Linked DNA regions of Homo sapiens: region 1 is linked to region 2. The links come from fine-mapping of genetic effects on gene expression. A gene starts in region 2. The other region holds a variant in brackets. All regions are shown on one strand. Distances are between the middles of the regions.

Region 1 (8,000 bases), 900 kb after region 2:
TATAAAAGTATGCCCCATCTATGTTGTACATTAATTAGAGGTAAAGCAGAGTTTCAAACCTACGCCTGTCTGACACATCTTTTCTATTACACCACACTGCCTCCCCAGCCATATAAACTTCCTAGGAGATTTGAGGATTCAGTTTAAGAGAATATTAAAATGTTCTATCACATTTCAAGTGATAGAATAGTAGGACTTGGTGATTAAAAATGGGAGCTAGAAGAGATGGAGGAATGCAAGGCTTCCACTTTGGTCAACTGAGTAATATCAGAACTCTTATGTAAAATGTATAAGGTAAGAGCAGGATTGAGGGGGAAGATCCTGAATTCAATTGGGAACGTGCTGAAATTGAATTTCCTGGAGGTCATCAGGAGAGCTATCTAGTGACCATTAGATACATGTAACAAGAGCTCAAGAAAAGGAAGAGACATGAAATTTCAGATTTCAGATTAAACAGCACGTGGGTCATAATTGAAGTCATGAGTCTAGATACAATTACCTCGGAATGTATGAGCAGAAAAATATGGTTGTCATGAGCAGAGTAACACATGGTCCCTGACGGTTACATGGTCTACACTGAACTGTCCTGCATAAGAGCCATGTGCCACATGTGGCTACTGAACCCTTGCAATGTGAATAGTTGGAATTAAGGTGTGTTGTAAAGGAAAAACATGCATTGGATTTTGAAGGACCTGTACAAAAAGAAAGAATGTAAAATATCTCATTAATATTTTTATACTGGGCCAGGCACGGTGGCGCATGCCTGTAATCTCAACACTTTGGGAGGCGGAGGTGAGCAAATGGCTTGAGCTCAGGCATTTGAGACCAGCCTGGGTAACATGGTGAAATCCCATCTTAAAATAAAAAATAATAATAATGAAAATATGTATATATTTTTATACTGATTATGTGTTGAAATGACGTATTAGATTAAACAGAACATATTCAAATTTTAAAAAAAGAAAAATACAGTTGTTATTACAGAGAATATAAAATGGGAACCAAACATGCTACTACCACTTTTTGTTGACCTCAATGCAATATTTTAGGATGATTACCTAAGATTATTTATAAAAATTACATTTCCACAGTGGTAAGAGAAAGGAGAAAAGTGATTATTATATTAGCAGTACAATTTTTAACTAGAGTAATTTTGTGAATTTGGGCCCTATGGAAGGAAAACCTTTTAAAGTGATAAAAATTTAAAGTGATAAATTCCTGACTTTGAAATATGTAAAATATTCAAAGAAATTTAGTTTTATCATCTTTTTGTTTATACCATAGTAAGCAAGGCATATAACAGCTAACGTTTGCTGAGTGCTTATATTATCCTGCACCCTGTGCTGTGATTCACATATACAGTATTCATTATTTTAATAATCTTGTAAGCACATAGATTAGATACTATCTCAGTCACCCAATAAAGAAACCAAGATTCAGAGAGACTGACTCATTTGCCCAGAAATAATAGGATTTCTCTCAAATCTCAGATTTGAACCCAAACTAAGGTATCTTCATTATATTTCCTAAAGACTGCATCCAAAAGAGCTTTCTTTAGTTGCTTAAGTTAAATAAACAATAATAACTTGTAACTGCATTAAAAAATCTGCATAGATCTTTTTATGAAGAACCAGAAAATAACATCCAGTTTCTCTGGCAGCTTTTTACTTATTAATTTGTTTACCAAACATTTTTTCCCATAGCAAGTATAGAAATAGATGTTAACAAGGGTTCATTTTAATTTTCACAAATATGAAATAGTAAGGTAACTGGCATTTAAAATTCTGGTTGGGGCCGGGTGCAGTGGCTCACACCTGTAATCCCAGAACAGTGGGAAGCCAAGGCAGGCAGATAACTTGAGGTCAGGAGTTCGAGACCATCCTGGCCAACACAGTGAAACCCCAGTCCAGTAATATTTGTACTAAAAATACAAAAATTAGCTGGGCATGGTAGCATGCACCTGTAGTGCCAGATACTCAGGAAGCTGAGGCAGGAGAATTGCTTGAACCTAGAAGGCAGAGGCTGCAGTGAGCCAAGACCATGCCATTGCACTCCAGCCTGGGCAACAGAGCAAGACTCTATCTCAAAAAAAAAAAATCTGGTTGGTATTGAATCAAATTTTGAATCTATGTCAAGTAGTGATATAAGATATCATATTGAGAGAAAGTTTCTCAAATAGCATTTTTTCACTAGTTATTAAACACAGTCTCTCAAATTCTGAGAGCATCCTGGATCCTGGACTTACTGGAAGAACCGCATGTAAAATAATTCCTAAGAGATTACAAAGTGGGTCTTAGTTTTTTCCTCCTAGGTAAAAGATTTACTTGACCGCTCTTGATTGCTATATAAGTATTACTTTTAAAACTTACTTAACAAGTGATTCTAAATAAAATTTAGGAGTATTAATCCCCAATAAAGGCTTCAAATTTAGAAGACATGTTTCATGATTTGAGACGTACATAAAAATTAGAGTTCAGTTTGGCTTGTGCTGTGTTTCACTTCATGTTTACTGAAATTATCAAGGTCAATGAATGTGTAGTCAGTACATTTAAAGGTGAATTGAAGAGGAATTCTAAGAAGATTTAGAAAAAAATATAAATACTAAAATTTTAGTAAAGTTGAGATTTCAGAATTTAATCTCATTGTTGATGTTATAATCTATATATACATATAGATTTAAGCAAACATATATACATATATGTCTGTCAGCAATGCATAGACTTCTCTGTAATTTTGAATGTTGCTTAAAAATATATACTATTCAACACTTTACAGAAGAAAAAATACTTTATCATTATGATACTAATTTTGTGCCTAATAAAACTTTTTTAGTTTTTATAATTTCTTCTCTCACAAAACCTTAGCCTCTATGATATGCAATATATGTAGTTGTCACACTTTCTGTAGAAATTGGCAAGCTCTAATTGGTTAAAATTTTAAATGACCGTATTATTTATTTTATATGTAAGTATCCATATTCTTAGTTAATATTTTGGAAACAAATACATATAAACCCTAAAGGAAATTGGTTTTTGATATACTTTTTCTAGGTCATGGGATTATATCTGACTTAAAATTTTGATTGAATTAAACTGTCATTTAAAAAAAAACCAGTTTTTAGACATATATTTCCCCACTCACACACATACAGATGGCACTGACCAGGGAAATATATTTTTGGGGGAAGGAGCATTCAAAGGAGTTGATTAGCTGTAGCTATACTAACTATATCTCTAGTTTAGTTTTTTTCCCAAATAGGTTCAGCCCACATGTGGAAAAGAATAACTGGGCAGCTTCAGACAAAAAACCTAAGCTATCCAATTGCCTGTAACAGATTTTACAGTAAAACAGATGAGGTTTATTTTTAAATGAACTATCATAACAAACGCAGTGTTATTAGTTTTGTTAAACTGGATTTAAAGATCAAGAATGTAATTGAAAACCTGTGATGTGGGAATCAAGAGGCATAAGGAAGTTTTTGTTCTCTGAAATGTCTTTCTTATCCAGACTCTTGCTGGCTGCAGCCCTTGAATTGTACCACTGGAAACTAGTTGCTCTACATTAAGCATCATATTTTCAGGGGCACATAACTAAAGAGTAAATATTTCTGAGAAAGTTTACACATTGAGCTATTAACCATTAATAATGTCAGTTTATAAAATGGCTCTCTAATGGTGTAGCTGGCTAAGAGGAGGGGCTTAAAAAATGGCATTCAGGATGGTTTTGAAGGGTCAGTATAAGGGAAAAAAAATATCTTTAGCAACATAATCAGTGACATAGGCCAGAGAAATGAACTCTAGACAGTCAGGAACACAATAAAAATTCCAAGATTTGGAAGAAAGAGTTATCTTGTATTGACAGGAAACTGCTAAAAGATGATGAGGAGGGAAATGAACACACTTCATCAGTTGTTCAATTGTTATTCTTCTGTCACTTGAGTCTTGATATAGAAACTAAATTCACTCTTCTGCCATTCTAATTCCATTATTGCAAATTTCTTTATAGTGAATTTCCCTGTAAGAAGGCATGTTTATTCCACAACTCCGTTTTAATTTGTTTCTTCTCAGTCTTATGGATTTATACAACTTTGGCACATGCATTGCTGATCCATTCCTTACGGGCTCATGCAACCACATTTGTATGAATGGCGCATCACAGTCTAGTTTGTGATTGAGCATGACATTTTCTTTGCATATGTCTGTGGAGTGTTCCCTCCATACATTTCTAAAAACCTGTTTTCCAACTCAGAAATTTTAACATTAGAATTCACAGGATGACAGTATCTCTAAAGTTAAGTAATCTTTATGGATATCTGATCTCGTTTACATGTATCTTTAT[A/TTATA]ATTGACTATGATATTGGGATGAAGCTAACAAAATTTAAGAAAGAGAAAAGCAAGGCACTGTAAATACAAAAAGCAATTGCACAAGTATAGAAGCGAAAGAGACCTAACTTGGCAGCAATTCATCTGAAAGGGACCTGGACAAGCTTAAGATGAGCCGACAGTATGGCATATTTGCCTTAAACTATATTAATGGGAAGGCAACCTTGGCTGCCTTAATAGAAGTATAAGGTTGCCAAGGAGGCAGTAATCTTGCTGATTCTGGCCCCACCCTGTGCAATTTGGAGCATTGCATTCTGGGTATCCTATTTTAGGTGGTATTCTTAGAGGACTGGTGGGTGGTGAAAATCTGAGAAATCATGTTTAAGTGTAATGGTTGAGTGAATTTACATTGCTTAGCCTAGAGAAGATAAGATTAAATAGAAATATAACTGTCTTTATATACTAAAATCACTGTCCTATAGAGGACAATTTGTAGGTATAGAAGTAAAAAACATTTACTGATTTGTGGTCTTATTTTAGATTGATTTCATGATTGCTTTATTCCATATAAAAATAACTAGCAATAAATACTAGGAGCCCAATATGAGCCTATGCAGGTGGAAATTAGGTAACAAGAAAAACTTAGACTTAGTAATGCAGTCTGAGATAGTGCTAGAGTGAGCAGTTCTCTACAGACTGAAGGTATCATTCAAGTCTCTGTTTGAATTCCTATCTGTAAGCCAGACCAGCATTTGAAATAGCCAAAAATTACTTATCAAGGGGATGAGTGCAGACAGAAAAGAATGTTATTTCTCCTATGAAAGTGTTTTTTTTAGTGGCATATCCATATTATTCATATGCAAAAAAAAGAGCATGAGGAAAGGGGCTTAAACTGAAGCAGGAGTAATTTCCCTAGATATGAGAAAGTATCCAGTTGTTAGGGTAATATAATATTGGAATCGACTGCTAAAGAAAATTGTAGAGGGTTCATTCTTGGAGAGCTTCAAGAAAAGTTTTGCCAGTTATCTGTCTTGGGTTGCTTAGACTACTGGGTATTTGGGGGAGCCTTCCTTATCTTATCAGAGTGTGACTGAGAGGAAATTGACAGCCACATGTATTAAAAGCAACATAGTTTATTATATATATATATATGTACATATGTGGATGTTCATCAAAAAATAGTATATGCTCATCAAAGAATATTTGGAAATCACTGAAAAAAAGTGAAGAGAATAACCAGAAATATAACTATTGTAATCTAGTATATTTATTTTTAATCATTTTTCTGTGAATTTTGATTAACTTATGTTAGGAGTTTTTTAAAACAATAAATATACTCTTTTAAAATTGCTTTTTAAATTTAAGCACAAGGAATTTACCCAGTCACTTTAATGAACAATTAATATACACATCAGTTCTATATTGTGGTTAGTTAAAGCAAAGAAATGGAGAAAAGGAATTAAAAGAGTTAAATGGAAAGAAAGGAGAGAAGGGAAGAGAAAAAAGAATAAGGAAAAGAAAAGAGGGAGAAAAGGTAACAGGAAAGAAGACAAATTTGGAAGGAGATGTAGAAAAAACAGAAGAGTTGGGGGGACAACAATAGTGAAATGTTAGGGAGAAGGTTGAAAAGAAAGTTCTAGTAATTTATGATAGATATCCTGAGATAACCCTCATTCATCTGGCCCTCAAATATGTTATGTAAATAGGAGCATAATATGTTGCTTCATATTTCTGTCTTTTGAAGTTCTGATAAGTTTGTTATTTACTGATTATAAATCTGTATATGCTCTCGGACATTAAAATAATTTCAAACTCTCAAATCAAAAGATATCTGGAGCAGCTTTTGAATGATGAAGTTCTTCTCTGGTTGCAGAAGTAAAAGCTAGATCTTTAAAGGACACGAGCCTGAGGATTCTACCTCTACCTTATATTAATTGGCATGAAAAACAAAAGTCAAACCTATTGTTTATTCAATTCATTCTCGTTCTGTGAATCTTGGATTTTATGTTTTCATGTTTTCTCCATCATGTTGGTGACCAGTTAGTTGAATTAGTTTGGAGCAAGCAGTAATGAGGACAAAGTCATTCCACATAAAAATTTTCTCAAGTATTAACAATTATCCATGAATTGATTGCATGTTTTACCCAAATCATCTTCTTCAGTAATGAAGGAGATAGCTTTGAAATCTATCAATTTGCATAAATTTACCAGAAAATTCACCCCAAGCAAATACACCACTGATGGTGAACATGTATTTTAAACCTGACAAACAATACATCAACGCATATGCTACCAAGACTTAGTAATTAAATCACATTAAGATTGAGAATCTCTTATTCTAGCATGATTTCTATACTAGCTGCCATATTTGACTCTTGTAATGCACATCTGGGTATCTAGAAACATATGTTCCAAATCTGACTCTATCACTAACTAGCTCTGTGATCTTTGCTTACTTCTTCTTAACCTCACAGAAGCTCAAAATGTATTTACCTCTAAGTAAAGTTCAAAGTGATAAGAGAGTATTTTGCCAGCCATGTTACAGAGTTTCTTAGTTAATATTCTCAAGCTCTTACAAGTATCAAAAGAAATAACAATATAGTGCAAGATTATTTACAATGGGCCTGGTGGATTATATAATAACACTTTGTCCACCTAAATTATTATTACAAGAAATACTTTTTGAAAGCCTTATATCAGTGTAGGAAACCACAGGCTTGCATATTTGACCTTTAACATGATTTTATTCAGTGTTTAGGGTAATGTTAGTAGAATCACAGTCCATTTATTCAGGATGAGTTCCCGCACCCCCAAATTCCAGTGAGTGTTCTGGTTATACCTGTCAAAATCTCTAGAAACTTCAGAACTTCTGGAGTATTTCTCTGCCTTTTATCTCTCCTGATTTCTTGATATATCTGTGTATTGCTTTTCCTTCTCTTTAGTGAGCACTCCTTCCTCACTTCTCCCCCTGCTTGTATCTTTCTCCATTTACTTCCTAACATCCTTCCTTTAATTCTGTCTCTCCCATTTATCCTTGTTTTGTGCTATCTTCTCTTTTTATAATATGAAGTTAAAATATGTTTTGAAGCATTTTATCTGTTCACTAGGTCTGTGTTACCACTTTCTTTGCATCATATTCTCCAGCTAGACAGGACAGAGATCCCCATTCCTCACTGTTGTCCTAATGCATCTGCACCTTTTTTTCACATTTTGTTCTCTTCTTTAAAAAAGCTCTTTACCCTCTATGAAATCCTCCAACCAATCCTTCCTTCAAGCAAATGCACCTTTACCAGGAAATTTTCCTTTCCCAGTTCTTTACCTCCTTAGGTGCACCCAGAAATATTCTCTTTCAGTCTCCTTATCACTCCTTTGTTCATATGAAACTTACTAGCAACTATCGTAACTTACCAAATTATTTCCTATGGCAGTACATTAAGGGTAAAAGTCACATTGTTTATCTTTGTATCCATTATTACACAATGTCACCTGTACATCGAAGGTGCTCTATGAGTACTGAATTGAACTGCACTAATTTAAATCTTAATGAACTAGATCTAATTGCCCTTTGATTCCATGTAACATTCAGTTAAGATTTTCTAAGATGAGTGGCTCTTAACTTAAAAAGAAAAAAGTGTTCCCATATTTATCAGTGAGTGAAGCCTTCCTCAATGAAAATTGTTGT
Region 2 (10,119 bases):
ACTTTGGGAGGCTGAGGCAGGCGGATCACAAGGTCAGGCAATGAAGACCATCCTGGCCAACATGGTGAAACCCCGTCTCTACTGAAAATACAAAAATTAGCTGGATGTGGTGGTGCACACCTGTAATCCCAGCTATTTGGGAGGCTGAGGCAGGAGAATCGCTTGAACCCAGGAGGCAGAGGTTGCAGTGAGCCGAGACTGCACCACTGCACTCCAGCCTGGCGACAGAAAAAGACTCCCATCTCGAACACAAAAAACAAACAAAAAAAGGGAAATAAAGAATATGCAAAGTACAATCCCTCAAATTTTTATTAGACCCACAGAAATAAAATTAGTCTGTTAAACTGCTATAAGTTTCTAAATTCTTACTTTCTGTAAATGCCTTGACATGGATGTGTAACAAAGGGCTTACAGACTGGCACTGCCTTGTGGACCACACTTTTGGTGAGACTGCTCTAGAGCGCTGACAAAAATCAGACTTTGAATCCACAGGGCTGAAGTCAAAGCAACTGAAGGGTGTCCTGACTCACCAGCTGGCCACCTAGTGGCCTCCTTCTAGTCATAAGCACAACCTTGTGTCACTCCTTAGTTCAAAAACCATCCATTATTCTGCCTGACTCAAGGGTAAAATCTCAGTCCTTTAATCTGACATCCAAGGCCTTCCAGAGCTGGTTCTAAACAACTTTTTAAGTCTGACTTTCCACTATCCTCTACTTCACTAGACTGCATTGTCCAATATGGTAATAACTTGTCCCACTTGAAATGCAGAAGTGAAATGAGGCTAATTTAGGAACTGAATTCATAATCCTAACTTTAATTTAAAATAAAATTTAAAAATATACACGATTCGATTACCGTAAAACTTTTAAGTATGCTTGGAACGACTTGGGTACGTGAATCTATTTTTTCAGCTGGAAATTTTATGAAATCAAGTACTGAGATATGCTATAAGTATAAAATACACACCAGATTTCAAATGCTTAGTTATGAGAAAGATAATGTAAAATATTTTTAATATTTAGTAATTTTTTATGTTGATCACATGTGAAATAATATTTGGATATGCTAGGGGTTAAAAGTGTAATTAAAATTAATTCCACCTAGACAACATGCCCCAAACCTAGGCATCACTATTGATTCCTCCCTTTCCTCATTTAATTGGTAAGCAAGATAGGTCAGCTTTTTGGATCCATCCACTTCCCTCATCTCTACTGCTACTATCCTAGTCCATGATACTCCATTTCTTTTTTTTTTTTTTTTTTTTTTGAGACGGAGTCTCGCTCTGTCGCCCAGGCTGGAGTGCAGTGGCACGATCTCGGCTCACTGCAAGCCCTGCCTCCTGGGTTCACGCCATTATCCTGCCTCAGCCTCCCGAGTAGCTGGGACTACAGGCGCCCGCCACCACGCCTGGCTAATTTTTAAAAAAATTTTTTATTTTGAATAGAGACGGGGTTTCACCATGTTAGCCAGGATGGTCTCCATCTCCTGACCTCTTGATCCTCCCACCTCGGCCTCCCAAAGTGCTGGGATTACAGGCGTGAGCCACCGCGCCCGGCCAGATACTCCATTTCTTAAATCCTTCAATGGCTTCCAGTGCACTTCACCTTCTTATTGAGGCTGAAGACTTCACCTCCTATCATTCCTTCTTTTGGTCACTAGATTTCGGATACACTGACCTTGCTATTCCCTAAACACAACAAATTTTTCACCTTAGGGCCTTTGCCCAGCTATTCCCTTTGGTCTCACACTGTTCTTGTCCTTTCTAATACCTTCTCAGTGAGGCCATCTCTGATCAACCAACCACCAAAAGTTTGCTCTCTTTTCCCCAGAGTAACACTTTATCCAATCAGCTTTTAATTTTCCTCACAAACTCTTTTTTTTTGAGGCGGAGTCTCGTTCAGTCGCCCAGGCTGGAGTGCAGTGGCGCAATCTCGGCTCACTGCAGCCTCCGTGTCCTGGGTTCAAGCTACTCTCCTGCCTCAGCCTCCGGAGTAGCTGGAATTACAGGAGCGTGCCACCATGCCCAGCTAATTTTTTTCAGTAGAGACGGGGTTTTGCCATGTTGGCCAGGCTGCTCTTTAACTCCTGAACTCAGGAGATCCACCCACCTCGGCCTCCCAAACTGCTGGGATTACTGGCATGAGCCACTGCACCCAGCCTTCTTCACGAATTTATGGGATATTCTCTCTCCTCTTATTTTTAAAACTTGTTTATATGCTGTTTCCCTCTAAAAAACAGGAGTAGGAACCATTTGTTTTGCTGCTGCTTTACCTATTTCAGTGTGTAGAACAGTACCAGGCACAGAGTAGGTGCTCTTCCAACAGTGTTGAATGAATATCTAATTGCACACTACACATATATGACTGGTTGGCTCACATGCACTTCAAATTTTACATGGTCAAAACAAAGACTTCTTCCTTCCCTAACATATATTCTCTTATTTTGTTTCTAATCTCAGTGAAGACATTACTATCCTCCTAGCTGCTCCACCAACTCACTTGGGAGTCACCTGACATCTATCTCCCTCAGTCATTTTCAGTTAACCAAATCTCCCAATAACCACTTTATTTTCTTCACACCTACCTGCTACCAACTCAGTCCAAGTCATTACTGGCTCACAGCCTACTGTTTACTCCAAACTCTTCTGTTTGCCTCAAATTTTTGTGTAACAGTGATCTGTCTAAAATGAATTCAATCCTATGATTCTTCTACTTAAAATCTTTCAATATCTTCTTCCTGGTTCTCAGAAGCTGACTTCTGCACATAGCATTCAAGGCCTTCACAAGTAGACCTCCAGCATTGTCTTCTTTACCCAACAATCTCTCTAGTGTTTGCCTCCAAACATCTGTACTTACTGCTTCTCATCTAGAAAGTCTTCCATAATACCCTTATTAAAGCTAATTGCTTCTCTAGTCCCATTCCATTTTATTCCTCCCTCTTGGTTTAGTAAGGGGTTCCTCCTTTATTTGATTCCACAGTATTAAGTAGCTTCACTCTCATCATACTGATGATGCCTATTTACTTGTCTACATTCTACAGCCTAAGATTAATGGGGGCAACGATTCTGTAACAATTAGCTGAATGTTCACTCAAATAAACAATGCTCATTCAAATAATGCTACAGAAAAACATCAGAATTTGGCAAATTTCTATTAACTGAAGAAATGAAAATATTAAATCAAAAGAAAACACAGCCTATGGTTCCTATGCTTTTTTTCTATTTTAGGCACAATGCTTTAATAAATTACACAAAGACTACAAACCTTTATTACATCAATTGTTACAAAAGGCTAAGTGGAGAAAGATTACTTATCTGAAGCTGCACAAAATCAGTGGGCAATATGGATTTCATTTAAGCTTGTCAATTCTCCTGGATTAAATTCTTGGCGCTGTCTCACATATTCCCAAGTCCTACATGTAGGATGCTAAAAGTTGCAGTTACTAGGTTGGGAAAGCCATGCCCAGACGCCCCTGTGAAAAACATATCAATATATTAAGTTCCTTAGCAAATCACATCTAGATTAAGTTCATAATGCTTTTTTTTTTTTTAACTTTGCAAATCTCCAAACTTTTGCTACTTTCTTAATAAAATACAACAAAATTTTTGGCATTCCAGCCACGGAAAAACAGATCTCTACCTCTGAGGTGGCAGTAATCCAAGCAGTTACTAGGATCTACGAAACATGAGGCATAATTAGAATGTTGGGGAAAAAATCTACAGAAATATCTATATCTTCGTCATGAACCTGACTGTTGAGTTTATGAAAAAGTGGAAAAGGAACCTCACTCGTTCCTTCCCTGGTACCTTCACAGCGTCTCCCGTCCCAGTCTGCCTAGTTGAATCTAGGGACACTTAAAGGTAAATCCTAGCCTCTTGGCTGTCCTTCCGTCTCCCAGGATTCTGCTAGGCCGCACAGTTGGCAAGCTTAAAACTCCAAAGATTCCGCACTCTCCGTCTTTCAACAGTCATGTCACAGAGACACGAAGGTTAGCACAGGAACATTAGTTTCCAAACTCCTACCCACCGCAGAACAGGCGGGAAGGTTCGGTGGCCACCCGGCCTCTCCGCCGCGCACATGGCCGTCCGCAGCTCCCACCCCCGCTGCCGCGCAGGCGCCGGGCGAGCCGGGACTTGCGGTCGCCGAGAGCGGATCATTCCGCCGCTTTCTTTGTGTGGCTGAAGCGCTAGAAATGGCATATTTTCTTTCCCTTCGTTAAAAAATCAGACCCTCTTTCCCCTCTCTCCCCGCGGGAACACAGCTAGGGAGTGGGTAGGAGCAGGATCTGCCGACGAGGGCAGAGGCGGAAAATCCTCGGGCGATGAGCTGAAGAGGGCCGGGTCCGGGAGGGATGCTGGGAGCTTGACTCACTCGCACACCATGTGTCCCTCCGCGCGCAGCACGGGGGACTTTTCGGTGGGGATTTTGGGCGCCGACCAGACGCGGCATTTTCGGAAAATAGCGCCCTGTGCAGCTGAAGCGCTTTGTGTGTAGCGGGGCCGCGTCAGCCCGGCCGGGTACGAGGCGCCTCGGGTCCCCGCACCACCTCCTGCTGCCTTCCCGTCGCCGCTCCCGAAGCTTTTCCAGGTCAGTGCGGGTCTGTGTAGGGCCCTGTTACCACCGGATGTGGAAGTTGATCTCTTCGCTGGTAAAAAATAATTCCACTTCCCCCGGAACCCAGATCATCCCCGCGATTTCCTGTTTATTGCATTAAGGCGCCGGGTTTCCGGGGCTCCTGGCCCCGCTTATTCCGCGGGGGTCGGCGGGGTCGGCCTGGGCGCCCGCGCCGCCGCTGCGCTTTGTCCGCTGGGCACACTGCTTCTGGGAGGGGCGGGCAGACATGGTGGCGGCCGCCGCCCCCTCCTCGGCCCTAGCATGCCGCGGCCGCCTCGCGGCTACCCGGCTTGCCGGTCCCGAGCGGCAGCCCCGGGGTGGCGATGGGGTCGCGCCGAGGCAGCGGAGGTTCTGCGGGCGACTGGAGGTTGGCAGTGGGCGGGAGAAAGAGGAAGGCAGGCGCGGCTGGGCCTCGGCCTCTGGCGCCGCGGTACCCTTTGTCTCGGCAGCCTGACGGCCCCGCCGGGCTCTCCGGAGAGGGGAACGGGCGGCGAGGGTGGCGGGTCCTGGGCGCCCTGTGCTGCGGGGCCGAGAGGCGCTCGGGTCGCGGCGGGATCGGCCGGACCAGACAGGGTTAATGGAAGAGCCTGGCCAGTCCCGCGCGGGGCCCCCGCAGCGACAGCCTTGGCCGCGGGGACTGGAGTCCTGAGGGGGAGAAGCCTGCCGTTCTGAAGGCTCGGGACTTCTGCCCCAAAGACTTCGCCGCCGAGAACTGCGGGTGCACTGCCTCAGGGAAGAAGTTGAGAATTTTGCCAGGTCATCTCTGCCAGGGCACAGTTCATCACTGTGTGTTTAGTGTGTTTCGGTGAAGCTCTCCAAGTGTGTTGAATCAGCGTGCCTAGCCTCAAGGGTGCATCGTGAAAACTGAAACCAAAGGAATGATACAGGCCTGCTTTGTGTGTGTCTTCCCACTTTAAGCTTGTTTTCAGTACAAATACTCTTGCTTTAAACCTGATTGGACTGTGGCGAGCGGACATCTGTTCAAAGGAGGGGCCGAGACCACAGTACTTCTGAAGGGGGCTTGATAATGTGGAAACATTTTAAGTTTTCTCTCCGGACTGTTTTGCTCTCTCAATTCAGGCAAGTTACTGAAGTACGTTTTTTATCTAGAAAAAGGTTTGATGTAGTCTGTAAATGGTCCTTGTAAAGTACATTGCCATCTCAGAATTAAAAGATCCACTCTCATTTATTATGCAGAAGTTAGTGGTCATTCTTTCCTGTAGATAGTTTATCTCATGTAAAGACCCACCCAGCTTGGTTTAAATTTTTTTCTCACTGACGTATAACCATCAGCTTTGATACTTCCATTTTCAGGCTCAGACTTTGAATTTAAGGAAACTAAAGATGACTTTATTTTCTTTTCTCTTGGTTTTTTTTTTCCAAAAACAAAAAATAAATCCATTACATGTTAACATAGATGATAAGAGTGACATCTTGCATTTTTGCAAATCTTTTTAATGCCTGGTTTAATAGAAGATTCTCAGATCTACGTCAGACTGTTGTGGTTAGCACACCATGTAACCTCTGGAACACTCCACTGTACACTCATACTTTTTTAAAAAAAAAACCAAAAAACAGAAATGTGTCATTCTTACCGTGCTTTCACCATACAAGTCAAATCAAGCTGTTATGCAAGACACATTTTAACAAGACTGAATAAGATTGATTCCCATACTTTTTTTACTGGGCTCTAACTTTTTTAAAAGTTGGAATTTAGGTGACTAAACAAAATCACAGATGAAGACTGCATAATCTGCCTATGATCTCGGAGACTCAGGAACATTCGAAGATATTCTTAAGTGATTAAAACATTTAATTCTATTACATATTTATAATGATTTACACAAGTAACACGTGAATTCCACATATGCTATCAACACTTGTGTAAATGTTATCTTTAAAGATAGAACATGTTGAAAATTATAGGAGGTACAGATTTTACAGAAAATTAATTCTGCAGTGAATCCTTTGGTGAAACGAACAGTTTGCAGAGACATATCCTTAGAGTTCTTTGTCTCTCTGAATCATTCTGGGTTTTCTAGGTTGGGAGACAATTATACTTATTGGGAGACAATTATACTTAATTGATTAATGCATAAAAATTTAAGGCCGTATTTTAATGGCTTTGAAAGGAAGCTAAGTTTGTTTCCAGTTGTTTCTGTGAACTGTAGTCTGAATCTGTCAGTCTATAGTTCTCTACTGTTCCATCAACAGGAAGCATCTGGTCATTCTTCGTGTAATTGTTAGAAAATACCAGGTGTACTTTTAATGTTTGCTGTTCAAACGAAAATAGATTGGATCTTGGTTAAGTTCACTTGGTTTGGCCAGGCACAGTGGCTCACGCCTGCAGTCCCAGCACTTGGGGAGGTGGAGGCGGGCCGATCACCTGAGGTCAAGAGTTTGAGACCAGCCTGGCTAACGCGGTGAAACCCCATTTCTACTAAAAATACAAAAAATTAGCTGGGCGTGGTGGTGCGCGCTTGTAATCCCAGCTACTCGGGAGGCTGAGGCAGGAGAATCGCTTGAGCCAGAGAGGCAAAGGTTGCAATAAGCCAAGATAGCGCCATTGCATTCCAGCTTGGGCAACAGGAGCGAAACTCTGTCTCAAAAAAAAAAAAAAAAGTATGCTTGGTTTTAGTGTGTTTTTTCCCATAACATTGTGTCATTGTAATGGACCACATCTCCTGTACCATGAATTTTTTTTTACTTTTTTCTTTTGCCCCTCAGTACCAGAAATATTAACAGGTAACAGGTAAAGTGCACGTCATGAGGAATTCAGAAATTCAGAAATTACATGAAGTTTTGCATCATGAATTTATTTTTGAGGGTGCACGAGGCAGTTACCCAGTCTCTGTTTGCAAGTAGCCTGAGTTCAGATGAACTCACTGATGGCCTCCATCTCTTCTGACTTTGCAAACGTTGAAAAACAAACCCACACAAAATCTTGAAGTTGAGAGCAACTTAGTTTCCTTAGTGTCATCCCTCTGCTCCCCTCTCCTCCCCAACAACTAGTATGGTTTCCAGCTAGTAATCACAATGTTTCTATAGCTCTGATGTGCCTACATTGGGATAGCTACAATTAGTATTATAGTTTTCTGAAGATGTTTGTTCCATCATGCTTTCTAGAAGGTAAATCTAGCACTAGATGAGATCAGTATTAGGGCCTGTGTTTTTTCTCAGTGTTGACATCACAGTGCTCTATACAAAGAAGATGCTTTGGTGCAATCAGCTGTCAGTTCAGTTGGTGGGCTAGTGCACCTTTCTGTCTCCCTCCCTCCCTCCCTCCCTCCCTCCCTCTTTCCTCTCTCCTTCTCCCTCTGTCCCTCTCCCTCTCTCTCCTTCCCTCCCTGTTTTCCCCTTTGCACCTCTTCTTTCTTTGACAGGGTCTTGCTTTCTCTGTTACCCAGGCTTAGTGCAGTGGTGCGATTATACTTCACTGCAAGCTCCACCTTTCAGGCTCGAGCGATCCTGCCTCTGCCTCAGCCTCCTGAGTAGTTGGGACTACAGGTACCTGCCAACATGTCTGGCTAATTTTTTAATTTTTTGTAGAGACGAGATCTCACTGTGTTGCCCAGGCTGGTCTCAAACTTCTGGACTCAAGTGATCCTCCCACCTTGGCCTCCCAAGTGTTGGGATTATAGGCGTCAGCCAACACACCCATCTGTGAATAATTCTGAAGTTGGTAGAACAGCTTATTGACAGAGCAAGGTGTTAGCCCCACTTTACTGTGTACTAGTTATATTATATTTGGGGTATTGTGTTGGCTTTTTGGGTAGCATACTATCATAAGTGAGACCTTGTATTCATTCTCAGACTTTATCAGAATCATCTGGAGAGCTAATAAAAAGCCACACAGAGGCCCAAACTTAAGTAGGGTAGGAACGGACCTTAATTTTTCTCATTTCCAAGGTGGTAGACACCTAAGTGTCAAAATCACTTATCTGTAGAGCATAAACGAGGACCTTGATCATGAGAGAAATGGAAATGAGAAAAAGTTGAAAAAATGGGATGTTTGACCTAAAGAAGAGGAGCTTCTTTTAAGAAGTAACAGCCACTTTTAAGGATTTGGAGTTCTGTCATGCAGAAGGATCAGATTTGACTTGACCAGAAGGAACTAGGGTCAGTGGGTGGAAGTTTAAAAGAAGCAGATTTCAATTCTCTTTCAAGATAAATTTCCTCAAAATTGTGAAAATAGAATGAGTTGTTTTGGGTGGTAGGCTGTTCCTGTTCACTGACAAATTGGGGATTCTAGAGTAGAGGAATCGTACTGAAGGAGAATTTGAGCTAGGTGTCTTCAAGTTACCTATAAACTTTGAGGTTTTATTAAATATGCCGAGGTTTACAGGTGGAAGAACAAAAAGCTAATTGAGTGAAACAAACTGGTTAACTTGATAATAGTTTTTGCCTTCCTGGATAAAGAGAAATGAGTATTAAGTGAGAAGGCTATTTAATGAAGGGCTTTAAACCACACTGTAATTTGGTAGATTCAGCAGCTTTAAAAATTGGCATACCTTCTGACATGGAAATTCCCTTTAAAGAATTTTTTTTTTGATGTAGTAAAGATGTGTGTGAATATTTAATTGTGAGCATACTAGATGCAGTATTGTTGATTATAAAAGCTGTGTATTAATGCCTTTAAGCCCCACGGTAATCATATGAAGTGGGTAGTACTATTTCTGCTTTTCAGAAGAAAAAACAGGCATAGAGAAATGAGGTTGCTTGCTCAAGGTACCTGAGTTAGTTAAGTGTTAGGGCCAGGACTTGAATCCAACCAGTGTGACTCTAGAGCCAGTACTATTGATCATTATATGGTAAAATTGTAAACAACCTAAATGTTTCACAGTGATTGTTAGGGTCCATCCCTACAGTGGGGTACTGCCTTCTCAGCCATGAAAATGATGATAGAATAATATAAAGACATGAAAGGATGTCTTGGTATATGTAAGTGAGAAAAAATAAATTTAAAAACATGATTCCATTTTGGTAAAAAAACCCAAAAATATATTATGTCTGGAAGGATATGTGCCAAATTGTTAAATGGTTATTTCTGAGTGTAGTTTTACAGGTGATTGTTTTCTTTTTGCTTATCCAAATTTTCTAACTTCTACAATGAATATAAATTATCTATCATGTTGTAATTAAGATATTAAGATGTAACTTTTCAATAAAAAATTAAATGTGTTAGCATAAGCTGAGAAATTTGGGTTTTATACTCTGCATTTTAAGCAAGTTTGTAGAAATTGTACATGAGAATTTGTAAATGCATGTAGTGTTTTGTAATTTTTTGTTTGATTCCTTATTCTAGAAGTAATATCAATTGAGTAGAGAAACATATCACTCCTACCACCCTACCATAATCAATTATTTTGTTGTGTGTTGTTACTCTTATGTGTAATATTTTAAATATTCATCCCAGTGTCATCCCAGTTAGTCATACTCTAGCTGTGTGATTTTAGGCAGTTTACTTAATCTCTCCGTGGCTCAGTTTCCTTCTTTGTAAAATGTG

The links.
Region 1: its variant is fine-mapped to the expression of GABPB1-AS1 in cerebellum (GTEx, PIP 0.99).

Annotation. Positions count from the first base shown.
Region 1 is chr15:49,446,145-49,454,144 of GRCh38, reverse strand. All of the region lies in intron 11 of FAM227B (family with sequence similarity 227 member B), which reads left to right. The region is part of intron 2 of FGF7 (fibroblast growth factor 7); the gene reads right to left. Among named protein-coding and RNA genes, the nearest start is that of FGF7, 27 kb to the right of the region's middle. The variant A/TTATA (reference allele first, on the strand shown) is at 4,339.
Region 2 is chr15:50,349,452-50,359,570 of GRCh38, reverse strand. GABPB1-AS1 (GABPB1 antisense RNA 1) reads right to left here and starts at 5,397. Exons shown (of 1, transcript NR_024490.1): 1 at 1,259-5,397. It overlaps GABPB1 (GA binding protein transcription factor subunit beta 1), which reads left to right and starts at 4,373. Exons shown (of 9, transcript NM_016654.5): 1 at 4,373-4,586. GABPB1-IT1 (GABPB1 intronic transcript) reads left to right here and starts at 4,692. Exons shown (of 1, transcript NR_026891.1): 1 at 4,692-10,119. RefSeq lists enhancers at 3,820-3,899, 3,968-4,591, 5,330-5,389 and silencers at 4,100-4,149, 4,730-4,979, 4,990-5,199.